Regions from separate parts of the Homo sapiens genome. Here region 1 is linked to region 2. Evidence: fine-mapped expression QTL. A gene starts in region 2. The other region holds a variant in brackets. All regions are shown on one strand. Distances are from middle to middle. Region 1 overlaps LOC105374029 (a long non-coding RNA gene). Region 2 holds the start of BBX (BBX high mobility group box domain containing).

The links. PIP is the estimated chance that this variant, and not a neighbour inherited with it, causes the effect.
Region 1: its variant is the best candidate, but not a certain one, in a credible set for the expression of BBX in subcutaneous fat (FUSION, PIP 0.78).

The regions. Positions count from the first base shown.
Region 1 is chr3:106,694,071-106,710,484 of GRCh38, reverse strand. The region is part of intron 2 of LOC105374029 (a long non-coding RNA gene); the gene reads left to right. Among named protein-coding and RNA genes, the nearest start is that of LINC00882, 540 kb to the left of the region's middle. The variant A/G (reference allele first, on the strand shown) is at 8,557.
Region 2 is chr3:107,515,064-107,531,477 of GRCh38, reverse strand. BBX (BBX high mobility group box domain containing) reads right to left here and starts at 8,516. Exons shown (of 18, transcript NM_001142568.3): 1 at 8,371-8,516; 2 at 5,080-5,151. RefSeq lists enhancers at 5,927-5,976, 8,850-8,899 and silencers at 6,177-6,386, 7,840-7,909, 8,020-8,109, 8,140-8,449.

The sequences.
Region 1 (16,414 bases), 820 kb after region 2:
ATTTTAGGTATTAGTATTAGGCATCTCACAATCCCATATTACTTCTCATACCTAGATTAATTTTTATACAGCATTCTATGCATTAACACCTAAAATAAAAACCTTTTAAGATTTTACCTCTTCCCATAACATAAGGTACTTTTTCCTTAGACTTGTATTAGAAGTCCCTATGGGCTAGAATGTCCCTATAGTCTAAAATGACCTAGAGTCCAACAGTTTTCCATGGAAATATCATGGAAATTTTTTTCTCTTAAGGTCTATTTTAGCCAGATGGATCTGTTCAATGTTCCTAAACCGATCCCCTGTAATCCTCTATAATGTGCCTTATAGAGTCTACCTTCCTTTATTCACACAATTACCCACACCTAAATTTTTTTTTTTCTCTGCAAGTCTGAATCCCATTCATTTTCAAGGGTCGGTTCTAGACAAATTGTTCTATGAAACAATGACTACCCACCCCCTCTCCTTAAAATCTGTAGCGCTTCTGGCCGGGCACGGTGGCTCATGCCTGTAATCCCAGCACTTTGGGAGGCTGAGGCGGGTGAATCATGAGGTCAGGAGATCAAGACTATCCTGGCCAACATGGTGAAACCCCGTCTCTACTAAAAATACAAAAAAATTAGCCGCCGCCGCGGCGGGCGCCTGTAGTCCCAGCTACTCGGAAGGCTGAGGCAGGACAATTGCTTGAACCCGGGAGACAGAGGCTGGAGTGAGCCGAGATCGCAGCACTGCACTCCAGCCTCGGTGACAGAGTGAGACTCCGTCTCAAAAAAAAAAAAAAATAATCTATAGTGTTTCTATTGCCTTTCTCTTCATTTGTCATATGTCATTTATTATTGCTGTCTGGCTTTTTCTTTGTTGGTCATTAATCCCAAGATAGTTTGGAAGCTCCTAGAAATGATGGACCATATTTCTCTGTATACACGTACAACCTGGCACAATACTAGGTACAGAATCAGACTCAAATGTTGACCAACGTATTGTTCCTAATATACAATGATCCGTGTAGTGTGTACATTCCACTTAATCTTGGTGAAGTGATGAGTGAATTCTTCTGAAAGCAGTGCAGATATGTGTCAGAATAAAAAAGCAAGGGCACTAAATCATTCAAGAACTGATAATGAAAGCTCTGGAAAAAATGTTTTATGTTTTATTAAAGAGATAGTAATCTTTTTTATGAATACTGTTTTAGGTATTATTGCTGCAACTTTATTTGGAACCAGGCAGATGCTGATGATCTAAGATGATGATAATCTTCACGATAAATGCAATCATTATAAATGTTAGAAACTTGCTGAATATATGTACACATAGGAGAGAGATTTAAATGGTTCTTCCTTCTTTATGTTCTTCTGATAATAAATACGTATAAAACAACATACGCTAAAGTTAATATTTGATTATTGGAAGGGCATTTTGAAATAAAACCCACATTCTCAAAGAAGTTAGATAAGGGAGATCTCAAAGAATATTTTTAGATCTATCTGTTAAAGGAAAAAATATTGAAAAACCTTCTGGAAGATTATGGATTATTTATTTTTTCTTTCATTTTTTTAGAAGAGTCGAACACAGCTGTACTTTCTATATATTTGGGAAATTTCTATACGTTTGGGAAATTGGAGATCTAATAAATGTTGACTACTACACAGCGGCTAGCCTAGTGCTGTGTACTCTAGATCTTAAATTCTTCCAATTGACATACTATTTCATTTCTTTATATATGTATGCAAAAATAATTAATTATAGTGATGATAATTTTCAAACATCTGAAGTAAGTCTCCCTTCCCCACATTAGCCAGTAAAAGAGTGAAGGAGAAAACAGAATATGTTACTGAAATATATGTTTGTTCTACATCAGCAAAAATGGTTAGAAATTAGGAGGTATCTATCAGCTTTGTTCCAGACTTACTTCACGTTATCGTGTTAAAACCGTTGAAATTGAAAATAATTTTTCACATTTTCAAGAAATTTTTCCATTTCAATAGCTTTAAACATGAATCATTCAAATGTTTGGCTAATTACTGTCTGCATTGATGACATATATGTTATTTCATTTGGCATAAAATAATTTTCATTGCTTTACAAATACTGAAAATTCAAGAAATTACCACACCCATTATAGGTGTTTTTCTAACAATTAATTATCTTGATATAACTCAAGTTCTAATTTTATTTTCATTTTAAATTTTACAAAATAGTGATTGCTATTCTCATTAGGTTGTGCTCTTTAAAAATTTAATTTCAATGTTGGCTATCGACTATTTTCCCAAATCATTTTCCCTGTTTAGGGTTTGAGATTTTTGTTTTATAAAATATTATTTATCTTGTGTTCCATTGTTGATTAACTTTAAACTTTCAAAATATATAATATGGCCAGGTGCGGTGGCTCACGTCTGTAATCCTAGCACTTTGGGAGGCCGAGGCAGGCGGATCACCTGAGGTCAGGAGTCCGAGACCAGCCTGGCCAATGTGGTGAAACCCCATCTCCACTAAAAATACAAAAATTAGCTGGGCATGGTGGCGAGCATCTGTAATCCCAGCTACTTGGGAGGCTGAGGCAGGAGAATGGTGTGAACCCGGGAGGCAGAGCTTGCAGTGAGCCAAGATCACGCCATTGTACTCCAGCCTGGGTCACAGAGCGAGACTCCGTCTCAAAAAAAAAAAAGCGTCATATGGAGACTATATTAAAAATATATCATAATTAGCTAATATAGTGCCAACATAATGTTAAATTAACTAATTTAAATTATAAACAAATAAATGCTTAGACACAGAAATTTCCCAACTAAGAACTTATCCTACAGATGCAGTCACAGAGGTATGAAAAGATACATGATCAAAGGTATAGCCAAACAATATTGAGTATTGTTTCTAATATCAAAACTGGAAATACATCTAAGCGACTCATGAAACAAATTGAGAAACTAACATACATTAGACTATTGTGCAGTTACTTAGAAGAATGAGTCAGCATTATATGTACAAATAAAATATAGTAAGATTATATGTAAATAGTAAAATCAGGAAACATTGCAGAACAGGATATATTTTTTGATCTAGTGTGTTCATATATGTTTATATATATTTATATATAATGTATATATATTTATATATAATGTATATATATTTATATATAATTTATATATAATTATATATATTTATATATACAATTTATATATATTTATATATAATTTATTTATATATTTATAAATAATTTATATAATTTATATATTTATATAATTTATTTATATATTTATAAATAAATTATATAAATTATTTATATATTTATATTATTATATATTTATATATAATTTATTTATATATATCATTTATGTGTATTTATATATAATTTATATATATTTATATATAATTGATATATATTTATATATAAACACAACCATAAATTATATATATATATACATATATAAAAACTCATAGACTCTGTCTGAAAGGATCAGCCAAAATGATTAATAATAAATTTATCTTTTAGTTTATCCAAATCACTTTTGAGGATAGGAATTGGGCAGCCTAAGCTTGGGAGTGGGCTAGATTTTTATCTTTAATTTCTTCTATAACATTTTAATATTTTGTTATGATAATAAATTAATTTTATAAGTCAACAACACAACATGATTTAACACCTGTCACTTTTTATAGGTGTTGAGATGTCCGATAGATATGAAATAAGCATCTCCACCTCAATAAATAAAAAGACAGGAATTCGACTCTAGGATTTTTATCAGTTTGTAAGAATAAAAGATGAATGCATTAAGGATGTGAATTTGTTGTATTTACCACTTACAGAAAAATTATGGTCAGCACTTTTTGACATTTTCATAAGAGGACTGTAAAACTCCAATTTCATAAATTTAGAATGACATTTGAAAGTATATCTTTCTGTGTAATTGTGTGGCTTTGTTGTCCTACTGTCAGTTATGATTGACACTTAATAATTAGGTGTGGAGATATAAAAGATGCTGAATTTTTTTAAAGTAGCTTGGATACTGATGGAAATTGTCAATTCTCTTAGAATGCTTGAGCAGAACATCAAGATCACAAGGTTTTTCCAGTTTCTCTGAGTAAGAGAAGAGGTCTCTGTGTTACAAAGGCAATTTATTAAAAAGTAAGAATACCAAATCTATGTGAGTATACATTAAAACACATTCTGCCCAACACATTGGTTATGCTCCTAATGGTTAGCATTTAGAAGCAAAATCTCTTCATTTTAATAAAACCATATGACCCTATTCCATTTGTAAAAATTCCTTATTAATGCTGGATATATTACTTTATAATGTTAAAAGGTATCCATAGTATATAGCAAATAGGGTTTCATCAATCTAAAAAGACTGAAATCAGAATATAACCTTAAATGGAAATGTAGAAAATAACCAATTTCTTTTTTAAGGCACTTAAGCACATTAAGTTAATGATCTCAAAAATTCTAGAACATAAGCCAAGATATATTTGACATATCTGGGGGCAGTTCTGTGACATGATTATGTGGAGAATTCTATTGCTAGGTTCTATTTTTTCCATCCAAAAATATTTTTTTACCGCTTGAAATGGTGAAAAAAATCATTTTTGGGAGGAGCCATCTATAAAAAACTCTCCCACTGTATTATTATTTTAAGATCTTTGTTAACTTAATTTTCTTCAAATCTTTGGTCAAAGTTTTTCAAGAAAACCACCCTTTTGCTCATTCTCAATACCTTGCAATTTTTGTTGGCTTTCAAATGCCACAGAAAATATTTTGATTATTACTTGTGTGTTGTCGTGACAGCCTTATATTTATATATTTCAGGTTTTCTCATTTCTCATTTCCTTTATTACTGCATTAAGTAGATATGACCTCATATCACTATTTCATCTGATTTTAATATCTCCCCTAAGGTCTTCTAACATCCTGTCTAAATAATCAGTAGGAAAAATTTTTTTAGAAATTATCTAAGTGTTTAAAAATCAAATATTTTTAATAGCATTTGAAACATTTTTTATAACATGTAAAACTGATTATGGTGATATTTTTCTGTTAAGTTCAAATCAGGCCTTAGATACATGTTTTTGTTAATCATTATTTATTTGGAAATTGGAAAAGATAAATCACATTGCCTACGAGATACATTGCATACTTATTTCATATAAGAAAGTTAAAATTGGTGGAATTAGGGAAGGAGAAAGAAAAATGAATTAACAAATTATGTGTCTTTTACTGGGTACTGGTTTGGAAATAAGAATGGTATCTGAAAACAGAAGTAACATGAAATTTAATTCAATACTGCAAGAACATGATGTTAGTTTTTAAAACTTTTTTCCCCTTACTCCTTTATATCAAAATGACTGTTTATTAGTCTTCCTTCCACCATATTCCAAATTTGAAAATTAGGTTAATAAGCTTTAATGTGTGTTTTTAATGGAAAAATTTTTAAGATCTTATACTGTCCTGGAAAACATTTTACTTCTGTAGCAAACCAGAAGAATGAAATAATGACATATAGAATGCTATAATGGAAACAATGTTTATGAGGGTTGTTGAGAAGTTTAGATTATGATGTAGCTATGCAACCAGTTGGACATCATTTCAGACATGTCCCTATCCATTTCTGAGCCTTTATTTCATTTGCAAAAGGTGACTAAATTGAATGAGAAAGCCCCTTCCAGCCCTAAGATACTATGTCTCTAATACCAAGTTCCCTTTGGAGTCAATATGATGGTTAGTATATTGTCGCAGCAACTCATGTAGTTCTTATATGTAGTAAGACTCAACTTTATCTGTGGATTGATCATTGTTGATATTGATTATTGATTATTATGAGTGGGAGTTTTATTCATTAATCAACAAATATTTAATGAGTACCTACTAAAACTCTAGTCTCTGAGCTATGGGAAGTTGTTGAATGAAGAACATATGTTCATGTAACTTAGAATCATCTCACAATTATAATGAAGGATAAAACTTCACATATCACATTAAATTCAGAAAAATATATAGTAATAAGTTAGGTACAATATGTTTGAATTAAAACATATTACTACAATAAATCACTTTTTTTTCTTTTTGAGACGGAGTCTCGCTCTGTTGCCCAGGCTGGAGTGTAATGGCGCGATCTCGGCTCACTGCAACCTCTGCCTCCCAGGTTCAAGCAATTCTCCTGCCTCAGCTTCCTGAGTAGCTGGGATTGCAGGAGGCTGCCACCAAGCCTGGCTAATTTTTTGTATTTTTAGTAGAGATGGGGTTTCACCATGTTTGTCAGGCTGGTCTCGAACTTCTTACCTCATGATCCACCTGCCTCAGCCTCCCAAAGTGCTGGGATTACAGGCATGAGCCACAGTGCCAGGCCAATAAATCACTTTTATGTATTAAAACATTTCAATTTTCACAATAACACTGAGGCAGTTATAAAAGATGCACACACACAAACTGCTCTGCCCATTTAAAGTATGACGTAGGTGGTCTCAGAGAAGGAAAGATCTGCAGCGGAGCCAGACTGCAGTACAAACCTCTCTGCTTCTTGGGCCTTATACTGTTTTGGAGATCCTGTGGTAGGAAAACACATATGGAGCATTTGGTACATCTCAGTAGAAGAAACATAATGTAGTTTATTCTGGAGCAATGCTTTACAGAGAATTATATGCCTTTTGAACAGTTTCTCCTTTTTGTCACTGGACACTGGTAAAAATAGAGTAGTTCACTGTGGTTCATCAAATGACCATGTGGTCAGAGTTTTCCTCAGAAGCTAGATCCAGAATTAAGATAAGTAGGCCCATCAGGAATCTATTGTAATATGGAAGTAGAGTATCTGTCATAATGCATAAGCAATGCCAGAAAACATGATTTAAGCTTGTATCTTAAGCAGATGACTTAGATACCCCCTCTATCTCTCCCCGAACCACTCACTTCACCTCCACCCCCACCACCATGTCATTCGCTTTTGTATCAGAACCTCTTATTCTGCTTTCATTTATGGCCACATAGGAATTTGGAGGAGGAATAAAGCAAAGCTTTATTTACAAATATGTTGTCTTGTTAGTCAAGCCAAAAATAGACCATGATTATGCTACTGTCTCACTCAAGGGGTGGGGGAGGTGGGAGGGTGAGGCATCAAAAATCCAATGGTGAGGGAAAGTTGATGGGCAAGCTGCATTTGGTATACCTATTCATCCATTTTATGAGGAAAGAGAAGCAATCCAAAGCAAGAATACATAGAGATTCATGAGCAGGAATAAATGGCTTGGCTAGAAGGCCAGGGCCTGAAAGAAGAAAAAAATGGAAGATAGGGGACATTGTAATGGAATAGAGGCACACAGATGTACCTTGCATAGTGGACATAAAATGTCAGCATTTTTATATTGCATGCTAATGTCACCAAAAAGCTGTCATTATGAAAGAGGCATTAAACAGCTGAAGAGACAAAATGACCCAGCCAATTAATGTCAGCCAGCCTCTGTCATTGGCCACTCCAGTGCTTGCACAAAGGGCACAAAAAAGAAATAGCCATTTGAGAGGGATGGGAGCTCTGCGTGGAGTCAAGAATATGGGCTCAAACTCATCAAGACTTATCTATCTACTGCCACTACTGACCCTTCAACCTGTCAGCAACACAGACAAATAATCTATCCCTAATGCAGCAGCATCCTCAAGAAAACCAACCAGACATTTTGTGGTAAGTTGACTACATTTGACCCCCTTTACCCTCCAATGTCAACAATTCATTTTCCCAATAATTGGTATATTTTCTGGGTATAAGTTTGCCTTTTCTGACTGCAGGATGTCAACCTGCACCACTAACCAAGGGTTTACAAAGTGATTCACTGAAATAGGATCTCACTCAATATCACGTCAGATGAAGACACCTACTTTGCAGAAATAGAGTGTGGGAGTGGGCACATGACCATGCAATCCTTTGGCCACACTCCACACTATACCACCCGGAAGCTATCGGCATGATAGAGCAACAAAATGGACTGGTGAAGGTAAACTGAGGTGCTAGCTTGGAGATGATTCCTTACAAAGACGGGGCACCACTTTCCAGGATGCGATATACACATAACATCAAGAGTTGGCAAACTTTCTGTAAAGAGTGAGATAAAAATTATTTTAGGTTTTCAGGCCATATGATCTCTGTGGCAGCTACTCAACTCTGCAATTGTAGTGTGAAAACAGCTTTAAATAATATATAAATGAATGGTTATAACTGTGTTCCAGTAAAACTTTGTTTATATAAACAGGAAATAGGATGGATTTGGCCTATTTGCCATAGTTTGCCAATCTCAACATGAGTAGATAGATGGCCTTTACATAGTTTCCTGTCCCTAATAGGTGGAATACATGAGTTCGAGAATCGAGGGATTGAAGCAAGGGTAGCCATCTTTAATATCACTTCTATTTGTGTTTCTGTCTGCACACATTTTTTATCACTCCTAGTTGTGCTTTATGGAAATTTTGTGCTTTCTGTGTACACAATCCTGATTTGCAGATTTTTTAATTTTTTTAATTTTTTTTTTTTTTTTTTTTTGAGACAGAGGTTCACTCTATCACCAGGCTGGAGTGCAGTG[A/G]TGCAATTTCGGCTCACTCCAACCTCCACCTCCTGGGTTTAAGCAATTCTCCTGTCTCAGCCTCCTTAGTAGCTGGGACTACAGGTACACGCCACCATGCCCAGCTAATTTTTGTATTTTTAGTAGAGATGGGGCTTCACCATGTTGGCCAGTATGGTCTCGGTCTCTTGACCTTGTGATCCACCCGCCTCGGCCTCCCAAAGTGCTGGGATTACAGGCGTGAGCCACCGCGCCTGGCTCTGTTTTGCAGATTTAAAACTCCTGATACCCAAAGGGAGAACACTTTTACCATGGACATAGCAAAAGTCCTATTGCATATAAACTGTGGTTTTCTCCTGGTCACCTTGAACTCCTTTGGATAAGGGACAAGCAGTAAACACAAAGAGTCACAATCCTGGCAGGAAATGGACTCTGATCATCAGGGGGAAGTAAGGCTGATGTCTTCCATTTATGAAACAGAATTCTGTGTTTGGCTCCCAAGCGATCCACTTGCATGGACAAGAACAGCAGCCACAGTCTTGGAGGCACATGGTGACCACAGACCGAAGACCAGCTGAGGTGCTAATTGAAGATTAGGAAAATCTAGAAAAATACACTGGTTTGATTTTTTTCTGCCTGGATAAAGAAGAGAGATGCTGAGGATTAATTACAGCCCTAAGATCAGCTACAGTTGCATGGGCTTAATTCATCCCATAAATCTTCTTCCTATAAGTCAAAGCCAGTTAAAATGAAAAAGCTCATCGTAACTATAACCCTTGTCATTCCAAGTCAGAACATATGTAAAGGAATAGAACTGAGCAGTACAATGGATGAAATATAGTGGATGCTGTTATGTATTGCCTGGCTTCTCCTTTAGAAATGAGGCATTATTTTCTATAGCTTCTGGGAGCAATACTATCTGACAGACTTCAGCTTTTGATTCTTTCTGTAAATTGCCTTGGGTTGGAAAGAGCTCTTTTGTCCAAGATCACATTTCCTTCTAACAAACAGCTTGCATCCAGTGACTGGTCAATGCAAGAACATAAAGGTCTGGCATCCTCAGTGCAGGCAAAACAAATTTGAAGGGGCCCTCCATGTTGGCTGTGGACTTTGTTAGATCTGCATGCAGCACAATTTTCTTCATTGTCCAATAACGCTTCTTTACCTTCCTGCCTTACTTCCCTTCCCTTCCATAGGTTTTGATCCCAGGAGTTCTCCCTAATAAATATCCTGCCTAATGATCTCCAATCTCCAATTTTACAACCATGTATTCCAAGGGAATCCTACCTGCAGTAGAAAAATTTAAGAATTAAAGTGGTTTAGCCAAACCACTTTATCCAACATCACCAAATATTATAGTTTATTAATGCCCACTAAGCCCCCAAAACCATTTGATTCAAATCTGAAAAAAGAAAGGACAAGAGTCACCTCTTGACTCTCAGAGACCTCCCCTCTTGAATCTACTGGTCAGACCTTTTCAATAGAGCTCTCTGGTGAACTACCTGTTAACAGTACTCTCCCAAGAGTGGTAGTTACCATTTCGTGCAAACAAAGCTCATATGTGGAACTGTTAAAGTGGAGAGCTCTTTTGGAGGCTGACTTACTTGATTACAACTCTACTGATGGCTCCTGGTTGTACTGAGTACACCAAGGTTTAAAAGTCCCTTCAAATGAAGAAACTGGATAAGGGATATATAGGATCTCTCTTATTATTTTTTTACAACTGTAAGTGAATCTACAATCATCTCAAAATAAAAAGTTTAATAAGAAAAGTTTACTAAAAGAGGCCTCTGTACCCACCCTGCAACAGGATAATGTACTACTACTTCTGTGATCGGTCTTCTGTGTCGAATGGTGAGTATCCATCATGCATTCAGATTGAAGGCTCCTGGGTTTATTCCATGGCTTTGATTGTCTTCCAGTTTTACCTTGAGGACAGTCAGAGACCTCTTCTGCAAGAGAACTAGCTCAGATAATCAATTGCTTTCTAGTCATGTTTCTAGAAATTCCGTATTTGCCCATAAAGTATTGGGGCATATTATGCCAGTAAGTAAGAGGTTCTAGAGGTGCTCATATTGACCCATTTTTAATTTCTGCTCAAACCAATGTTCTATTTAACAATTTGTATGAATGAGACGTGTTTTGAAAACATATGCTGCGTTTAAGGGTTGTGATATCTTAAGACATCATATAGAATTTTAGATTGAGTGACCTCTTGAAGTAGTGTTTTGGAAAATGGAAAAGATATTACTGAACAAAACGGAAAATTTATTAAAAAACAGCTTGTAAAGAATATACTCACAATCAAATAAAATAAGCTGCAAAATACGAAGTAGAAAAAAATTCTCGTCGATCCACATCAGGTTTAAGCCACCTCAATTCTGTAGTCTGTTTGTGCCACATGTAGCCTTGTGTTCAGGCAGGAAATAAGTAGGGTCATCGGCGTATCAGGGACGGTCTAGGCATAATGTAACTTAATGCTGACTTAGAGCCCATTGCAGGCACCTGAGCACAGTGGAGGGCTTTAAAGACTGGTAGTGCAGCCCACAGCCTCCGAAGAGCATTTCTTTGGAAGAATTGCAGTTTGCCCATGATATTTACTTAACATCCCTTTCAGGCTTAGTACTGAGGTTGATTGTTTGCATTTAAAATCTGGTTAAGCCACTGGAGCCATGGTTGCTAGGAAACCAGCACTTATTTGGAGACTGCTTTGCCATCTCCCTTCTAGTCACACCTCTAATTAGGAAGAGCCAACAGGTTGCAAAGTTTGTACTCACTCTTTTTCCTCTGAAAGATCACCAAGTCTAAAAATCACTCTTCCAGCGCATTCCATTTTTCTATAATAAAATCTGTTTGTGTAATACATTCCTTTGTGGTTTTTATTAAATTGTCTTCATTAAATAGGCCTTTACCTATCCCATTTCACTTATTTTCTAAATGATCTCAATGCGGACTTCCATTGTCAACAGAGCCGTTCCAGTCCCCAACCCCTGCTACCAGAGGAAAGTGTTCATTTATGAAAAAAACCAAAGGGTTAACATTTACAGTTGCTCGTATAAATAAGAGACCTATAAAGAAAGCTCATTAGTTAAATAAATCACAAGGATATTCTTTGTGCTGCTGTTCTCACACTGACAAAATTTTACATCACCGGGGCAAGTATTTACTATTTCCAGTCTGAGGCTTTACATACTTTCTTTGTTGCCATTTCTTCTTTTTACCTCCGGTCTAAAATAACATTATTTTCTCAAGTTGTTGGGCTGTGACACTACCAATTTCCTGAAATGGTGGGAACATGATCTTCCAATTCAATATACTTAAAAGGTTGGGCAGAGCTTAATAGCCTGAGAAAATAATATCAGAAAATTATGTGTTCCGTCACTTATACCAGTCATGCAGATTACAGAATCTCGGATTAGCATTTATCCAAGGCATAGAAGAAGGACATTATAAAAATATTTCATATATTTCACATCTCTTTTTTATTAACTTGCTGCCTTTTCAAGAAAAAATATGTGGAAATATGTTGTGAGGCCACTTCTGCATGTGCCGTGTGACAGGAGAGCCAGGCAGTTTGCTAGTGTTTCAGGTGATCAGAGCAGAGTTCATTTATCTAATTAGTATTTTTTGGCACCTAATAGGAGCTTTGTTAGTGGCAAAGGGTAAAAAGAAATAAGAATTAAGTTTTCTTTGCTAAAGGAATTTTTACTTCATTTAAAGGAGAATAAATATCTGCACACAGAAGCATGCAAAAACCTAAGAATATATTTATCGAAGGCAAGGACTGATTATTTGTACCCCAACGCTATTTAAGAAACTATGCAATCACAGTGCTCACCCTGGTCTGCCATATATTGTACAATCACAATCGAATATGATTGTTTGGTCAGTCACATGAATAATAACAATAAGCATTATCTCCCTCAAATATTCACCTTAAGAGCCTATATGCTATACGTGTCTTCCTATGATATCAACATCACTTAAAATATTTCTGAATACTTTCTTGAAAATGGCTTTCAAAGTCTGTCACTCACTTTTTGAATATGCTTTATCATATATAGAGACTTTGAAGTTGGATTTGGGCTTCAGAAACCATCAAATGTCATTTAAAAATGAGTCTGGTGCATATTATGGGTAATTTTTGAATATGGTTTTATTTCAAAACTGAGATGTGATTCTAAAGTAATGAGATGCTATAGAATTTTCTTCTATGTCCTGGAAAGCAATCTCTTCTATGAAAAAGAATAACAAAGATATTATTGGCAACATGGTTTCAATAAGTACGTGATCTCCAACGAGTGAACACTTTTATTCCTGTGTGTATCTGGCTTTTTCTGGCCAATTGTATTTCATCTCCTTATAAACTTAGTAAATTATAAAATGATAGTATCTTTTACTTTGTTTTGGCTATTAGGAAGCTCATAGTCAAATTCAAAACTTATATTTTTAAAAATCCCAGTACATTTTTGGGTAACTTTGCCTTGAGTCTGATTTTCTGTTTACCTTATTTTTCCCTTTCACCTGCCCTTATGATGTTTCTATCCTATTGCACTGTATATATTTCATGTACTATTTCAAATGTGTTAGGAAAAAGAACTGGGTATAAATACATGTACTCTTCTAAACTTCAATTTTTTCTTTATAGACACGTCATAATAATGAATAATTTATTCAGAGTTTTATATTTTTATTTTAAGCAAACAACAGAGAAGAAAGGATAATTGAGAGATTGTTCAGTGAAAGATCAGTGAAAAATGATCTTGTACATTTCATGAAATTTGACTTAATAGTAAATAGACTTTAAAATTTCTTTGCCCTTTATAACAGATTGACTTGAAATCTTACATAATATCAAACAACAGCAAACATTGGTTTGCTAGATTCTAGGGATTGGCAGTGAACAAACAAGAGATATTAGGTTGGTGCAAATGTAACTGCAGTTTTTCCAATTAAAAGTAATTGACACCTGAGGTCAGGAGTTCAAGACCAGCCTGGCCAACATGGCGAAACTATATATAGCTAGGCATGCTAGCAGGCGCCTGTAATCCCAGCTACCTGGGAGGCTGAGGTGGGAGAATTGCTTGAACCCAGGAGGCAGAGGCTGCAGTGAGCCGAGATTGAGCCACTGCACTCTAGCCTGGGTGACAGAGCAAAACTCCGTCTCAAAAAAAAAAAAAATAATTGAGAAATTACTGAATTTTCGGAAACATGAAAGTGTCCTGGAAGTCATGAGCACTATTCCATCTACTTTATGAGTGAGACGTGATTTTTCAATGTGAGAAAATATATAGCTACCTTGTCTCACACACACACCTGTAATTACATGTGCAGGCTATCGTCAGCCAATTTGGCATAAAGGGATAATTCTTAGCCTCTTTGAGTTTTAATCAATTATTGATTTCAACACTTGAATTAGTGAAGCGACTTGATGTTCATGGCAACGTGTAGTGATGATGCAGTATTTGCAAATGATGTATTTCTAGTAAGTTGCTTTGACACTCGGAAAACAGATCTAAATTTAAATCAATAGTCAAGATGCATTTTCATCTTACTTAAAAAAATAGTGTTATATGTTGGCATTATTAAACACTCAAATGCCCAAAACATGTTAAGTTCTGTGTGAAACGTTTTCAGCAACTAGCACAGCTACCCTGCCACCCTAGAACCTTAGGTATTAAGATAGCTGATTACAGATGATGGCATGAGAATAAATCCCTATTACTCTGTATGTTACCCATAGTGTTGAACATCACGGACTTTGGAGTCAGATAGATCTGGATTCATTATTTAACAAATTATAAATTTCTTTGTTGTCCAATTTATTTACAGTAAATGGGGATAATTACACTTACATTGTATGTTTGTTTTGAAAATTATGCATATTTAAATTGCTTAGCTCAGTAGACCAATAAATATTAACTAATAGTAAGTAATTATAACAGTAGAAGTAGTAATAAAAATAGTAGAGATAATATTAGAGTAATTACTCAAGAAACAATTGAGGATTACATATTACATATTAAAATGCAAATATTAAACAATATTTCTATATGCAAATCTATTAATCCTATAGTCCTATAAGGCATAATAAGGAGTTTGCCTTGTAGCTTCAGATTATGAGGCGTATGTGCACAGGGAAGTGAAATAGAACAGCAGTGGAGATGAGGGCTTGTGTTTTTTGGTGACTTTAATTCTACCACCATTTCTGAGATATAAACAAACTGCTTGAGACCACCCCAACTCGCTCCCTCCCCTGATAATGTCTCCACTTCCCTACCCTGATCTCCTTACTAGCTTAAAAAAAAAAAATTGGCTCTGGACAAGAAAATGTAATTTGAGAAACACAGAGGTAGATAATGTGGGAGTGGGAATGCTTACCCATATTTCTTTTACTTCTCTTTCTGGGCAAATAAGAGGATAAACATAATTTATTCTTGCATCTAATCTTGTCCATGCAGCCAATTTCTGACAGCCAAAGGCTGTCAGTAGAAGTGGTTTTTGTCACTTACAGGCCATAGCGTTGAATTGGTAGGATGAGGCCTCCAACAGTCTGTTCTTGTTTATTGATCAAGGAAGCTCAGTGTTGCAGATGATGCAGCTACAGGATGGTGAAGCTCCTAACTGCAAGTAGGGAGAGATTATGCTGGACATATAGCAGAATCTGTCTATACAATAATCATTGCTGTGGAAAACCACAAGATTATTTTTTGTTACCACACCTAGCATATTTTGATTAATACATGTGGGTAGAAAAGATTTTGATTCACTGTGTCTGTCTCTCTCTCTCTCCATCTCAGTTATTATTCTTAGTGTTTTTAAGTATTAATATGTCAATAAATACCAAGCTGATACAAAAGGAGCTTAGTTTTCTGCTTTACAAAGGTAAAGGGAGATAACTGCAAAAAATAAATTTATGAAAACTCTATATTCTTCTCCTTCCATTAAATTCAAGGTTCTCCATGCAGCATGCTTTTATGCTTTTATAACAGTAAATATAGAGTTATAATCTGTTTTCATAGACAATTTAGTGCTCTCCTATTAGGAAATGTCCATTTTGACATGAGTTTCTTCAACCAGCAGGAAAAGTCCTGAGGGACTTGAAATATAAGGTCTCCCAACTACCGCAAACTAGAAAATCAACAAATAAAAGAGAGATAGACATTCCCCACCTTTGAAAAAAGAGGTGATCTAGTTCATATTTCAAAAGTATTTTGTCTGATGCAAAATCTATCTGTGAGGCTTCCTGTCTCTTTTTGTTTCATGTCCAAGAAGTCTGAAAATAAACTCTGCAAGGAAACTTGAGAGAAGTCCACTTCAGTATATTTATAAAGACCCTGACCTACCCGAAGTCCTCTAATTATAAAAATTTGTGTAATTTTTTGAAGCTCGAAAAGGCAGAATACTAGAGGGTGGAAGAATTTACAAGAGATAAGAACCCAGATGCAATGATACATGACCAGTGTATGACATTGTTTTTGTACCATTTCACCATAAAGATGGCAGATAGGTCTGTTTCACAGATTTAGCAAATGTTAAATCAATATCATTTCCTCCAATTAGCTATCATTTTACTGCAACTAGACTAACGCATAAAACTAGGCTCTTACTCTTACTTAAGAGATTGTGCAGTAAGGAAGGCAGAGCAGGCAGAATTTTGAAATGTCACATATTGGAGATTTCCTTTCCTGTTATGTCTGTAAGAAGGCTGCAGTTTTTTTTTTTTTTTTTTTTTTTAAACCTAAGCTAATGTGAAAAATTTCTACCACATGACTTTATGTGTCAGTGGGTGGACCAATCCAATGAAGGCTCTGTCCTCTGGACCAATGCCTAGAGGTGCCACAATCCACATTAGCCTTAACCACAATTCCCAGCCCTC
Region 2 (16,414 bases):
AGGGTCCTACATTCATTACTGTCTTGTGTAATCCCCATATTATTGCATGGTAAACATTACCATACCCATTGTGCACATATGAGAATAAAAGTTTAAGGGATGTGAGGTAACATGCTCAGAGTCCCGCAACTAATAAGCAATAGAGGCAGCAGGAGTGGAACCTAGAGCTCTTTGGTGGTACGGCCTCTGTTCCTTGTACTACACCTTCTACTACAGGAGCACCTACAGAGGGTGATGAGGACCTTCCTCAGTATTGCAAACATACTGACTGAAATACAGCCAAAGAATGGTGAAGATGCAAGACACCTCATAAAGTCAATGAACTTCAGCCCCACATTCAGAACATCCAATCTTAGGCCATCTGTCCTTTGTACTGAGGTTTCTCAAAGTCAATTGGAGGACCTCCTACTTGCTTTAGAATCACCTGCTACATGTGCTAAAATCTAAATTCCATGGCCCCACCCCAGAAACACTGAATGAGAATATCAAAGGATGAGGCCTAGAGACCTCCATTTCTAAGAAGGCAAGCAGGCACTCTAGGCCAGTGTTTTTCAAACTATAAGTCATGAAATCAATTTGATAGATAATACCTAGTATTTTTTGTTTAATAAAATGGCTTGAAACAGATTGGATTTATAAAGATTAGTTAGGAATAGAAAATATCAGAGGGCACTGCACTTTGTCCTGTTTCAGGAAACTTGTTTCAGTTCTTTTATGTGGATTGGGATGTTAAAGGTATTTTTTATAATATACCTCAGTCAAAAGTATTTGAGAAATACAGCTGTTTTGAATAATTTTTACCCCATTCTTATTTCTCCTCTAAAGTAGGTTATTGGCCTTTTATTTAATTATTCCTATTACAAAAAATGCAACCTTGTATGTTCCTTTTAAGAGTTCAGTTATTCTGTTCCAGGAGTTTGTTTTATTCCCTGAACTTTTCATCCGAGGACCATGTTTAACCATTGGCTTAATTATTTAATCAACATTTTAAAATATTTTTAATTTTTTAAGATTTCATAAAATCCAATTCATTCTCATTGTTACTTTGTGTTTTTCTGTTTTGTTTTGTTTTGTTTTGTTTTGTTTTGTTTTGGAGACAGAGTCTTGCTCTGTCGCCCAGGCTGGAGTGCTGTGGCACAATCTCAGCTCATTGAAACCTCCAGGTTCAAGGGATTCTCCTGCCTCAGCCTCCCAAGTAGCTGGGATTACAGGTGCCCACCAATACACCTGACTAATTTTTGTATTTTTAGTAAAGACAAGGTTTCACCATGTTGGCCAGGCTGGTCTCAAACTTCTGACCTCAGGTGATCCACTTGCTTCCGCCTCCCGAAGTGCTGGGATTACAGGTGTGAGCCACCAAACCTAGCCTGTCACTTTGCATTTTATACAAACCTTCTCATTATCTGAAGTCATTTCACTATCTAGATTCTCGAACTTACATATTTTAACTTATTAAGTTTACATTTTGGTACATTTGGTAATATCAATGCTTCATGGTCTACATTTAATCTTTTAAGTCTTTCATTCTCTCATCTTCTATTTATATATACTTTTAGATGAAATTCTTTACTGGCTTGCTTCTTTTGTATTCTCTCACATAACTGGCACTTATTTCAATTCTTACCTGTTTCCTTGAAAGCAAAAAAAAAAAAATGAAGACAATCCCCATTAATACATGAGGATTTTCTGGGTATATCTGTACAGTTTTAAAATGATGTACTGGCATTTCAAGGAAATATAACTGCCTTCTAAAGGATAATATCACATATGAACATTGAGCGAAGTTGTAATCAAAAAGTGCTTTCCACAGGTATGACTTAAAATACAGAAATACTGACAATTAGACACAGTATGTGATGACTACCCTTGAGGTAGTACAACACCCAGTGACTGAATGACAGTCACAGAATCTTCAAGCTGGAAGAGCCTCCATTCAGTCTCAGTCTTTCTCTTTACCTATTCCCTTCATAGCAGTGTTGCTCAGTGTACTGAGGACTGCCTGCATCTGATTTCCCTGGGACACACGATAAAAACAAAGCAGTAAGATTACAATGTCCTTAGTAAAGTTGAGTTTGTTTTCATTTCATAGTGACAAGAAGGAATCTGACAAAAAATACAGGAGAGATACCACTCAGGCCCATTTCAAAAGGTACCCTCAGTGGTGAAATGTTAAACAATGAGATGGACTTCAAGGTACAAGTTCAAGAAAAGCATCTTCCTCTTAAGTTAAGCACCTGCTTAAGGTTAAATCTTAAAGCACAGGTATGCCACGTTGGTGGTAATGTAATATGTTAAAATTAATGCCTATATTTAGTAATTTGGAGCATTTGATGTAACAATTGTCAACATTTTATATACTTTTTTAAGACACTAATAATAACTTCAGGGACTTCCTGTAGTACAGCAAAAAGGCACATCTGTAATGGAACTGTTTTCAAAAAGTTCTTTTTTTAGTAGTATAGAGCTGTGAAGCCTTTACCATTTCTATTAAAGATTTCTAATATAAAAGTAATTGAAATTCATGACAAGATCTACTTAAAAATATACCCCTTGCTTTTACCCATGTTCTTTATGAAATGTAAGAAAACATATACTGTTAGTAGGCTGACTATTGACTAGTAATTAAAAATTGCCTGTGATTTTACTGAAAAGTGTGGCTTTATAAATATTTTAGCTACTGAGTTAGATTTTCATGAGTTGCACAACATCTTCAGACCTATTTATTTTTACAACATACAGAAAACTTATCAACTACGTAGTTACTTACGGCACAGGCCAATCGTAATCATATGTGCAACCTCATTTTCATTCAAAGATATGTTCTAAATTCAATGTCTACATGAATCTGTTTTAATGGATTAAGTATAAAAATCAGATCTATAAGGTCAAAAGTGCTATATATACCATTTTCAAAGTATGTTAAAAGCACAGCTATCTCAAAAACTCATATACCTTGAACAAAAAAATGGATACGAAGATCAAGATACATTTTCTTAATGTTTCAAAAATTGCAAATTTTAAAAAACATCTATGTCTCTAGAGAAAGATTTTTCCTAAAACTGCCACAGTACCTCCAAAGAGGTAACACTAGGAAACAATATAGATGAGCCACCTTTTCAATAGCTAGCATTAAATGTGAAATGCAAACTAGGGCTTCAGTTTCAGAACCTAACAGAGACATGCAGAATAATAAAATGGGAAGTTTGGAAACACTTGGAAATGGAGAAGCAAAAACGTCTTTAAATTCTTATTTTGATAAGTAAGCCTCAAATCTAATAGATACATTTTAGATGCCAATAACTGGCAATTCATTGTCAAAATGACTTTTTTTAGATCACTATTACAAGATTTACACTATCAGAACTACTTCACTGACTTCAAAGTCCAAGACTGTTCTTGAAAATATTGTTTTAATGAAGCAGTCACTTGATATCTCAAAGAAATACAAGCACTTATCAGACTTTTATTCTCAACATTACTAACCTATCATATTAATTTCTGAATTGGTCAAACACATTTCCATGGGGAAGGAATATTAACAGTTTGTTGCAATGAACAAAATAATGTGCCTAACAGTATAAATGTGGTGTTCTTTAGTAATCAAGAATGCATTTTGAATACTCTTGCCCAAAATGAAACTTTTCAAACAAGCTTTAAAAAAACTCAAAGACAATGAAATCCATGTATTTTAGTGTGCACTAAATTCAACTTATAGAACCTTCTCATTTTGACACTCCGATTGGCCTGCTATGTATGTGATGTATTCTGAGCTCTTAGTGAACAAACCACCTAATTATCAGCAGTAATGCAATATTTATATTCCATAGAAAATGTTCGATGCAAAACATATACAGATTATCTAAAGTTCTCTAGATTTTCTAAATGTTCAATGCAAAACTTACATAGATTATCTAAAGTCTTCAATAACATGAAAGTATATTTTGTTACCAAATGGACACTACCAGAAAGGTCTAGTCCTCTAACTCAATACTAAGACAACAGTTTTATATTCTTAATACAAAGACAATAATTTTGTTAATGTACACATTATGTCAGCAATCCAGGAAACACCACAGATGAGGTCTCTAAATTTTCTTTCACAGAAAAGTAAGTTCAAGTTCATTTTCATTCACAAAATACAATCTCTAAATTCACTATGGTAATATTACAAAGCACTACAGCTGATTTACACAATTTAGTACTAGTTTCCAAACATCAACAACTCAAGAGTACCTGGGGTGTTCCTTTACAATGGAGGGGCAAACTTACAAGGTGGTTTTCTGCAGATTAGGCTCACTGTGCTGCTTTCAAATGCTCTGTAAACCCTCAGTTCTTACCCACACTGTTACCTCTCACAAATTTTCCACACACTTACTGTCCCACACATATTTTGCAGATTTTTCCACTTGGGAGTCATATATCTGAAAAAGGCACTTAACAACAGATCTCAAAGTCTTTGTTTATTAAATTTACAGGCTACCGAATTGTTCCTAATTTCTCCAAACATGTAAGTTTTAAAAGAAATTATGATCAATTTTGAATCAAATTAGTGCACTAAACGCTAGATTTACCACACTGCCAATCCCACCTTTCCCCACCCCAAAAGTAACTGTTACAAACACCACAGGTTACTCAAGAAAGAGAACTTGAGAGAGAGTAAGCAAATGTCAGTCACTATAATTAGAGGACTTCTGCACAATGCTTCCTTGGGTTTTTAATAATTCTCTCCACTCATACACTGCACTCTTCCTATAGTATTGTCTAGCATTAAATTTACTAGACCTTCAATGCCATGTAAAATTTCATTATAAATTAAAATGTCTATTTGAGAATAAGTTTTGAAACGACAATTACTTGTAGATAAACACAAAATGAATATTTACTATCTTAATAATAACCCACAGCTGAATTCTAAACACTAAGAATCATAAACTGACTTATGCTGTGGGAAACTCAGTGAGACAAGGTTTCTGGGGTGCTGTAACCCCAATAAAGCATCTTCCTCTGTGAACAATAAAGACCCTTATGTCATTACTAATTGTCATCCTGCTTCCCTGTACGAACAGTTTGCATACTTACCCAGGAAGGCAAATGGAAAGTACACAGGGAGGAAGATGAACTGCGGCAAAGCCTTTGTCATATGATAGTGACCTATAAAGTATCAAATAAAGGTACATCATCAGTATAGTAGGGCTTTACAATAGTACAGTCCCAAGTCCTGTAACATCTATGAAGAGAAGGTACCAAAACCCAGGAGTCCAGCTCCCACTAACCCCTCCCCTTTCTCTACCACCCCCCGACACTGGAGAACTGTGGGAACAGAAGGCAAAGAAGCTCCCCGTATTGAAAGGGCAGAGGCTGGGGGGCAACCCAACTGGCATTCTAGGGTATCTCCCGTACCCTCGCTTCCTACTCCCCACATGTACAAAGCAGAAAGTTGATCCATTCTGCAAACGCAAAAACCACACCGCGATCATTCATCAACTTGCACAAGTGATCACCGCCCCCAGGACAAACACACCAGTAACCAAATCATAGGGATCGATAGGCAGCCCGAGCCTCGCCTTGCCCAGGAGACGGCGGGAGGTGCCACCGCGGCGGCAGCGGGTCCAGGTATCGAAGCCCTCAGCCTTTCAGACCTGGGCGGCCACTGCCGTCTCCCAAACACCCAGCCCGGGTCACAATCCCCAGATTGGAGATAGGAACCGACCAGGGAAAACACATTCGCCAAAGCCCACAGCGGCAAGTGCAGGGCCACCAGGTCTGCGAGGTCGGGGTGGGGGGAGCTAGGAAACAAGGAGGGAGGAAGAGAGCGAGGGATCCCACCCCGGCTTTGTTGCTGGTCACCATCAAGTTTGCATCTTAGTACAAAATGTCGATCTTAAAGGCTGACAAGACAGAGGCAGAGGCAGTGGGAGAAAGAGAAAGGGAATAGAGTCCATCTTGCTTTGGGAAAGAGGGGGGAAGAAAAAATGAAGTGCAAATACCACACTCCGGGCGTAAAAGTCTGCTAAACACCTTTCCATAACGGAGGAGCAACGAGTGGGGTGTCCCCGTGCCCGTGCCTGCTCGAACTGGCGGCGGTCTGGGCAGAAAACGCCTCCCTCTCCTCCTCTTCCTCCTTCTTCCCCTCCTCCTTCTCCCTCTCCTCCTCCTCCTCCCGCGGGCCCCGGCGAAGATCCCGCCGCCACTGCCTCTGCCTCCGCTGCCCCCCAGGGAGGCACCGCCGGCGCCCGGCCCGGCGCTGCCATTCCGGGCTTGGACCGCGCGGCGCAGAGCGCGTGGGGCCGGACCCGGGGTGGCCGCGCGGGGACGTCGGCGCCGGGGACCCCCGGCGCCCCTGGGCCGCTGGCTGCCTACAAAAGTCGCGCGAGCAGAGGTGGCGGCGGCGCGCAGGGGCGGGGGGCCGCGTGGGGGCCCCCACGCCGCCAGTGGGCAACCCCAGGAGATGGCGAAGAACGCCCCTCCCCGCGCGGGGAAAGTACCCCAGTCCCAGTCAGCCACCCCGGGAACGGCAGCCCGGCGTCCGCGGCCGGGAGAAGAGAACTGGACGTGTCATTAGCAGGACAGGCAATGGTTTCAAAGCCCCAGGCCAATGACCATTAGCAGAGGCAGAGCTCGCTCCGTCCCCATCCCCCACAACCTCCACCCACCTTCCCCTTCGCCCCCCCCCCCACCTCCACCCCACCTCGCGAAACTTTTCAACAAGATCCACCTGGACTAATTTGTCCACAGACAGTTAAAATATTGACTAGACCCTACACACTGGGAAGGAAGGGGAATGCACGCTTTATTTTCCTTCCTACAGAAAGGAAAGCAAAAAATAGCTTCTCTCTCTGTCTCTCCCTCTCCCCCCCCCCCCCTCTGTCGTACATGTTGTGTCTTAGCTTTTTGCATCGTTTCGTTTTACCTTCCTCATTTAGCAGAAATGATCGCGGCTATTTCACACATAAACGTGTTCCAGATTCTGGGATTCAGGGTCCTTGTAAATTACAGGACTCGGGTTCGGTCTCAGTTATGTTAAGTTTCATACAATACCAAAAAATAAATAAAATATGATAATAAATTTCAGAGGGTGAGTGAGCGAGACGAGGTGGAGGAGGAAAAGAAACCTCGAGTCTGATTTCTGTAATTTACTAGCGACCCGGATCGCAGCAAATAACAGTGTAACACGAGTGTGGCTTAAGAGGGCTAGGGAGCTCTTTCTAGAGGCATCGACCCCATCCCCGGATAAAGGATCTGCAAGTTTTCTGTCATCGCGACCAGGCAAAGCCGTAACTTACCTTCAGAAATAAGACTTTAAACGGCCAAGGCCTTCCTCCTCCCCTCCACCACCACCCTCAGCCTCGCTCTCTCCACCTTAAACTTATTGACACAACATAATCCCACATTCAAGCAAAATCCTGACACAGCCTCCCTCCTCCTCTTCCCCCTCCTCTCTTCCCTCCCGTTCTCTCTCTCCCTCTCTCTCTGTCTCCCTCTCTCCCCCCCCTTCCCTCCCTCTTCTCTCTCCCCTTCTCCCTCGCCCTCTTCCCCCTCTCCCCCTATTCTTCCTCCAGGCTACTCTGGCACTAAAACAGCACTTTCTCTACTCGCCGCGCATTTGGGTAGGGGTGGGGGGTGAGAGGGCACTGATCTGCGGGGCCGGAACACCCAAATCCCAACTCTCCAGATGAACGAGCAACTGGGCTGCTGTTCCCGGTCACCAACGCAGACGAAACGTTCAATAAATCCACCGAAGGCTGGCTCCTCGTACCTTCCTCCACTGCCCCTGCTCCCCAGGCCCCACCTCCCCGGCAGCCGAGACCAGGCAGGGCTCCACGTACTTTCGCCGAGATGAAGTTTGGGGCTCCCCGGGCGGCCACGAGCCGCCCGCCGGCGTGAGGGCTCTGTTGTTGTTTTCCTGGGGCCGCTCCAGCCCGCGCCCCGGCGCCCGTGCCCCTCTCAGGCGGCGCTGCCTGTGTGCCGAGAGGTGCTGGTTGCAAACGCAGCCTGGCACCGGCTGGCCTACTACTCCCCAGCCCGGCCCCCAGCCTCCCGCTCGCAGGGCACTGCCTCAGCGCCCCCCGCCCCCCGGCCCCAGCCGGCGCGGCCGCCGCGACCCTCGCCCCCGACCTCTCCCGACCCAAAGTTTTGGCGGAGGGGGAAAGTGCCCAGGGAGCGGGCCGGCTGGCGGCGGCTCCGGACGCGCGGGGTTCCCTCCGTCTTCCTCAAGTCCACCCTACCGGCTGCCGCCGCCGCCGCCGCCGCCGCCGCCGCTGCTCCTGCCGCGGAGTCCTTGGGGCTGCAGCCCGGCGGCTCGCAAGTGAGTAGGAAAACAGAAAGTGAGGGGAGTGCGCCCAGGGAGGGCTGGGGATGGGGGGCGCCTACCTCGCGGGCTCGCCGGGCGTGAGGGCGTGTGTGTAGCTAGCCCTCAGCGGCCAGTCAGGGTTTCTCTATGGGAAAGTGGAGAGAAGCTCGCGGAGCCGCTCTGCCTCCGCTTCACTGTACACTGCTCCACATACAGTACATGCAACCCGGAGAGACTGAAAACACTCATTTTATATAAGGCAGCCTGCCATTGGCCCGCGCAGTGACGGACAGGCCGCGCAGCCAAACAAGAGGCCCGTTACACCCAAACACACGCACACATACACACATTTTACAGAGACACACAAAGATCATCACATTTTCTATTTTCTAATGTTCGGGACCTGTAGACAGTAGGAGAGGACAGGTAAAGAGGCCCAGCAGAGTGGGGTAAAGGGGAAAACCCCTGTCTGCACCAAGTTGCAAGGCTTGAAACTGGTGTCCTTTTGACTTGGGAGGGTTATGGTAATAAACTACAACTCCACTGGATATGGAAGTGAGGGGGGTTTTTCATCGCTGCCTTTTGGTGCCCCATGGAAGAGGCCTGCATTGTGTTACGATTTTACAGCCTGACCCGGCTAACAAGTGGCCAAGAAAGGCTTTTATCACCTTGGATTTCTTTTGTCAATGGGTTAGCTATCACATAGGCCAAAATAGTGCAAGATAAGTTTATCAGGACTCTAATGCATTGAGGTTGTTAGTGCCTCATTCGTAGGTAGATTCAAAAAAATCAATATAACAACACACAAAGATAAACATTTTGCTGAAATAGCCAAACAACTTTTAACTGGTCAGTGGACTGCCATCACCTGTGTGGACATGCAAACTGTGCTGTTAGGTAAAATAAGTCATGGAAGATTGGCTATTGACCCTTAGCCTTCAAAACAGACCTTTGATTCAATATATACATGATTTATATTTTGCATATTATATATAAAAATATATGACTCTTTACATATTTCACATCTCATGTGAACATCATATGTTGCATGACTTTTGGAGATGATGAACCTCAGGACTGGTCTTTCTGATTGTTTTTCAACAATGCAACTTCAGAAGATTATATGAGACAGTTCAATACACATAAGTCAACAGGTTGGTGGAAAGAAGTCAAAGCTGGAAATTAGAAGGAATAAATTGTAGATTAAACTCTTTAACCAGCTGAGCAATCTTGAGCAAGTTACTTAACCTCTCCAATGCTCAGACTTGGTTTTGATTTTTAAGATTAAAATAAGAAGCTTTTCCAGATTCCCTCAATTAAATGTTTATTCAGCATCTACTATGTGTCAGGCATTATCTTAGGCCTAGATGTTTTCTTAGGGTTCCTTCCGTTTTAAGAGTTGGTGAATTATTCTCAAATACAAACATTTTGGAGATTACATAAACACTACGATTTTATGGCCTAGGTAAGTAGCTTTAAAACTTAAAGAAAACCCAACTAGGGCAACTTATTTCAGTTCCCCTTTTATTTCCTTGATGCTGTCTTAAGGTTTTTCTCTCGCATCCATAAAGTTGTTAAAAGAGTGTATGTGTGCATGTGAGCACTCCTGTGTAAGAGGGAGAAAGAGAAACAAAATCAGAAAAGTTTAAAAAGTTCAGAAAACAAAGTGGTATTTAGAAATGTGATGTTTATTTTTTTAGAAAAATCATTTTTAAAAGGAAAAGTATATAAAAAATCACAGCATTTTATTTTATTTTATTTTTGAGATGGAGTCTAACCCTGTAGCCCAGGCTGGAGTTCAATGGCGTGATCTCAGCTCACTGCAACCTCCGCCTCCCGGGTTCAAGAGATTCTCCCACCTCAGCCTCCCGAGTAAGCTGGGACTACAGGCACCTGCCATCATGCCTGGCTAATTTTTGTATTTTTGTAGAGACAGAGTTTCACCATGTTAGTCAGGCTGGTCTCGAACTCCTGACCTCAGGTGGTCCACCTGCCTCGGCCTCCCAAAGTGTTGAGATTACAGGCATGAGCCACAGCGCCCAGCCAATCACAGCATTTTAAACAGATAATATCAAAGTTTGTATTAGGGGTGGGCGCGGTGGCTCACATCTGTAATCCCAGCACTTTGTGAGATGGAGGCGGGTGGATGACCTGAGGTCAGGAGTTCGAGACCAGCCTGTCCAACACGGTGAAACCCCCGTCTCTACTAAAAATACAAAAATTAGCTGAACGTAGTGGTGGCACCTGTAATCCCAGCTATTCGGGAAGCTGAGGCAGGAGAATCACTAGAACCCAGGAGGTGGAGGTTGCAGTGAGTACAGACTGCACCATTGCACTCCTGCCTGGGGGACAGGGCGAGACTCCGTCTCAAAAAAAAAAAAAAAGTCTATTAATGGCAGTTTCATTTAGTTGACACAAGGAACAAAATGTTCTTTATCCACACTACACTGCTCTGAGGTCAGTGCTAAGTATTATCACCTCTAGTTTACCCATAGGAGAAATGAGTCAGGGACAAGTTATATAGCCTGCTCCATATTGCACAGAATGATAATGAAGAAGGAACTTAAACCGAGGACTTTTAATACCCAGCACAGGTTTTGAGTAATTTGACAACCCTTCCCTCCAAATCATGAACTTCAGAGGCAAGAGGGAATTGGAGGGAAAACCAAAAAAACTTTCTTAGAATTTCACTGTGCTCCTTTTTGAAAAGGAAAAAAAGTCGACAGGAGTTGCTACATTTAATTGCAGAGTGAAGTGTTGTGCATTATTTGCTAGTAGAACTATGTTGTGAAAAATAGAAAAGCCTATCCTACTCCCCACTCTTATCCCCAACCTCCAACCATAGGAAAACATTCTTCATATTTTTATGGTCACAAGATATTTTTGTTGAATTACACTTAGCTTAGCAGAATTATTTAGAGGTACGGTCTTCAAACTTTTAGATCACACATTGCTATCAGTAAAATGTTTGAGCATGTAGTCTCAATATGTATATTCATGTACACATTAAAAATTCACCACTGGACCAGGCATCGTGGCTCACACCTGTAATCCCAGTGCTTTGGAAGGCCAAGGCAGGAGGACTGCTTGAGGCCAGGAGTTCAAGACCAACAGTTTGAGACCAGCCTGATCAAGATAGAGAGACACTGTCTCTACCAAAAAAGAAAAAAAAAATGCACCATTGCATAGATTATTATTTATTATTATAAATCATATATTTACAAAAACAAAATTTAAAAGCATGAGATAAAAAATAAATAAGAGTTTAATTTCTTCTATAGTCCATAGAAGTGTGGATTCCTATGATAGAGTCTTAGCACATGCCCCAGGACTTTGCATTCCAGTTTGGACACCTCTGAGAGTGCAAGGTGCTAACTGACCAAGACTGATGCAGAAGAACATAAAGTGTATTGCAGTGACTTCCTATGAGTCATTACTGCTACTAGAAAATTGTTAGGTCCACAGGCCTTCGGATTGAGAGAATGACACCTTTTTAAACACATATTATATATTGGTACCGTATTTCCATTGGGCGTCATGTTCCAGCATAAGCCATTTTTCAATATTCTTTGGCAGAATATTTATTGAGAGGGTTCCATGTGCTCTTGTGCATGTCAGATGCCAGAAAAGGAAAACTACCTGCTCCTAGGAGAAGGGATAGAATAGAATTCCATTCTACTGTGTGGTCCGTAGGGCCTCACTGCTAAGTAAGGAAAAGAGGCTTAGAGCTAACTTTAATGTAGTATTTTACCATTTTGGAAATACTTTTAAAATGTTTATTACCTCATTTGAGAATAAATACCAAGAAATTTTAAATGCTAGTTATGCTCGAAACTTAAAATATGATCAGAAAAAATCATAGCTTTCATGGAGTTTACTTAATTTTTATAATGTAGGGTTATGAAAATAAAAACAATGGTTGGTTACTTGGGCAAAATGGCATTAAAAAGGGACGACCCTTTTCCCTTTTTGTTTTCACATTTGATGACCAATCACAGACTAAACTTACATGATTATCGTACTTCTCCTTCTCATGGCTTTGTCTGTTTTCTGAATTTTATTTTATATGGGCCATTTTTTGTGACATAAAATAATTTTGGGAAAGTAAATTTAAGTGTGTGTTTAGATGTGTATAAACAAATGTATATATTGTTTAAATGTATGCCTACACATAATTTATTTCTTTATTCATATATGACTTCTTTATACAATCCTAATACAAATCCTGATTTTGCCACTTTCTTTTTTTTTTTTTTTGAGACAGAGTCTTGCTCTGTCTCCAGGCTGGAGTGCAGTGGCACAATCTCCGCTCACTGCACCTTCTGCCTCCCCGGTTCAGGCGATTCTCCTGCCTCAGCCTCCCAAGTAGCTGGGATTACAGGTGCACGCCACCATGCCCGGCTAATTTTTGTATTTTTAGTAGAGACGGGATTTCACCATGTTGGCCAGGATGGTCTCCATCTCTTGACCTCGTGATCTGCCCGCCTCGGCCTCCCAAAGTGCTGGGATTACAGGTGTGAGCCACCGCGCCGGGCCCTGATTGTGCCACTTTCTAGCTGAGTAACTTTGGAAAAATTCCCCAATCACTTTGACTCAGTTTCCTTGTTTATTAAATGGGAATAATCATAATTGAAACAATACATATAAAACGCATCAGCCTGGAATATACTAAAGGTTCAATCAGTATTATTCGTGTTTATCTTTCCACACAGACAAACCAATGACAGATGCTTTACAGAAAGTGTTCTAGGACTTAACTATCATATCAAATGGAGTTTATGGAACCTGTTACAACTTACTTGCCCAGTGTTTGCAATTTCCTTTTAGCCTACACTCTACCAGCTCCACCATCTCTGCACATAAAAGAGATGTCAGCCTGATCCCAGGATAAAGCAAACATCTTATTGGGTGGGCATTATTAAGCACCTAAAAAAGCAAACTTGTAATAAATCACTCTTTGAAACAGGCCTTGTTTTGTGCACTGAAACTCTAGATAGTTACAATGATGAGGGTCTGCCTTACATAACAATTTATGACTTGTACTTGACCTTGCTGAGCTTCAGCGTTTTTTCTCTTTCTATAGGAAAAAGTGTTTTTTCTCTTTCTACAGGAAAATAAATAGAGAAAACCATACCTTTCTCCTCAAGCCAATGCAAAGGCAGTAAAAATTAGAGCTTGGATAGTTGGACCACTTGTTAGCACCAATGCAGAAATTCATAATCTTGAAGAGAACCAGCTTCTATGGTGTCCCAGAAGACTTGGGGATAAGAAAGAAAGAGGAGAATATCCTGCTTTCCTAGGGTGATTCTTGGGGCCAAACATCTTTGAATTCCCACTCTCCTGTGATCTTTTATAGCATTTTATCTATGTTATTCTTAAGGCATTCAAATATCTTGCCTTGCATTATGTTATGTATGTATTGGTAGAGATCTTTATTTGATGGCAAACACCTTGAGGAAAATGTTGTCTCCTTCAAGGTTTTATTTTCCAACAGTGGCTAGAACAGTAACTAATACATGACTGACATGTAACAATAACAACAAAGATTTGTAAAATTAATGAAGAAGACAAGCAAAAACAAACAAAAATGCCATAAATTCTAAGGAAGCTCAGAGAGAATCCAAGGATAAGAGAAGTGTCAGAAAAGGTTGGGGGGGTCCCAGATATATGGTAAACAGAACTTACATTGTAGGCATTATAAATTATACTTGCATATTGTTGTAATTTTCTAAAGCACTTTTACATGAGACAGCCTAGCATACTCACTAAAATCCAGATGAGGTAGGTGAGACAGATAGAGGGACCTTCTTTATAAATGAAAACAATTAAAGCGAGGAAATGTTAAATTATTCCTTTAATATTATAAAGCTAGTAACAGAGTTGGGTTAATACAAAGGTCCTAGACTTCTCATTCTGGAAGCTGTCTACTTTTTTTTTGGAGGAAGGGAGAGGGGACTGACCAGGGAGACACTTAAGAATCATACCATAAAAATAGGTCTCTAAGTGGACAATGATTTTACACTAATGGAGTTGATCATCAAATCAGTATGCTTTAGCGTTAGCAGAGAGGTCTTTCTAGCCATGGTCCCATTAGAAGCTTCAACAACATCCCCAGCAAGGAACTTCTGCTGTGACACATCCATATCCTGGGAACTCTCTTCTTGCCAAGACAGTCTATTTCATCTTCTGACAGTTTTGACCACTACAAAGTTCTTTTTGGTATTTTAACATCATTTCTCTCCTTTTAAGTTTCACATTGTTTCTTTTTCTACCCCCTTGAGACCACAAAAAAAAATCTAATCCCTCTTCCATGTGGCACTTGATATATATATATGAAGACAGCTATCATGACTGCCCCCTGAATTGAGTTGTCCATTTTCCAAGCTAATAGTCCCAAGTCCTTAAAACTTTCTTCCTAGGAACCATTGTTGATTCTTGGTCTCTCAAACCCTGCCTATTGTCTTTGTGGATGTGCTCCTTGATGTGTGATATACAGAGCAGGTGGGAGCTGAGGCAGTGTGCAGAACAGCATGACCATGGCTCCTTGATACAATATTTCTATTAATGCAGCTTGAGATAGAGCATGTTTTTTTGGCAGTCACTTTGTTACAAATCACTCTGCTGACCCATATTGTGCTTATTCTCAAAAACAAAAAACGTTTTTAAAACGTGGGCTGTTAAGCCGTGTCTTCTCCATTGTGTATTGTATCATTTATTTGGGACATATTGAGGCATACGCCTTTTTAACCTTGGTATTGTACAGTGATTAAGAGCTGAGTTTTTGGAGTTATACCAAGATGGGTCAGTATTTGGATCCAATACTTACTAACTTTGTAAACTTGGACAAATTATATAACTTCCCTTTGCTTCAGTTCCTCATGTAAAAAAGAGGTAATAATAATGTACCTTATAAGGTTATTACAATAATTAAGTAATATATGTAAAATACTTAAAACAGTGCTTGTCATGTACGAAGTACACAAAGTAGAGTTTTCCTTTCTCTTTTTTTTTTTTTTAAGCCGGTGAGATTCAGCCCATAATTCCACTTTGCCAACATCTTTTTGTATGCGATCATTTTATTCAACACATTTGCTATTGATCTCAGCATCTTGGTTCATTCACAAATTTCATGGCTTCTTTACGTTTTTCCAAGTTGTTTTTAAAAGCATTGTCCAAGGCAGAACCAAAAAGCACCCACCTCCCAATATATTGGTTAACATTGATTTATTAACCAGCACTCCCATGGCCACAGTTGTTGAGCCATGATAGAGTCGCCTATTTTCACCTAAATTTTTATTATTTAAACCTAAAGAAATTTATAGAGAATAATATAATGTAGCGGCCACCTAGGAGCTTTATTACTACTTAACATGTTATTATACTGCCTCAGATTTATTTATAAGAGGTAAAACATTGCACATTCAGTTGAAATCACCTTCCCTGGTCCAGTCCTCTTCCACTTTTCCCCAGAGGTGACCATTATTGTATAATTTCACTCTCATCCTATCCATATTTTTTGCAGTTCATTTATAAAAATACTTGATGTAGCTTTATCAAAAAGGGTTTATGAAATTTGCATTTACTAATATTATCAGAGAGTTCTTTGATAAGTGGGGTATTTAATAATGCTGGTTAATTAAAATAAAAAAAAGAAATTATAGAAGGATATGGGGTAGCTCCTAGAAATAAAGAAGAAGCTAGAGAATGAGATCTCAGAAAGCCCAAAAACAGTGTCACCTCCAGGTATTGACATCATTTTAGGTTAGAATATCTTCATTATGATGAATTTGCTCAAACTTTGTTCCATGCATTTATCATGCCACTAAAGAGAGTGGGAGAGTGGCTTCGCCATGTTTGGTGCTTACCCTTTGGCTAGGGTAGTAGAGGACACTTTGCTTGCTTACCTGGTGTGGGGAGGAGGTGCGGTGAGGGAGGAGGCAAGAAGTCGAGTTAGGACAGAAATATTTAGAGGGATACAATGTATTGGTAACATTATGGTTATTGGTGGATTCACAGATGTTCATTTTATAAGGAATATAAATGTTAGATTATTTTTGTGATATGTATCAAATATTTTTAAAAATAAACTTTAACAAAACAATAGAAAAAAAAAACATTGCATGC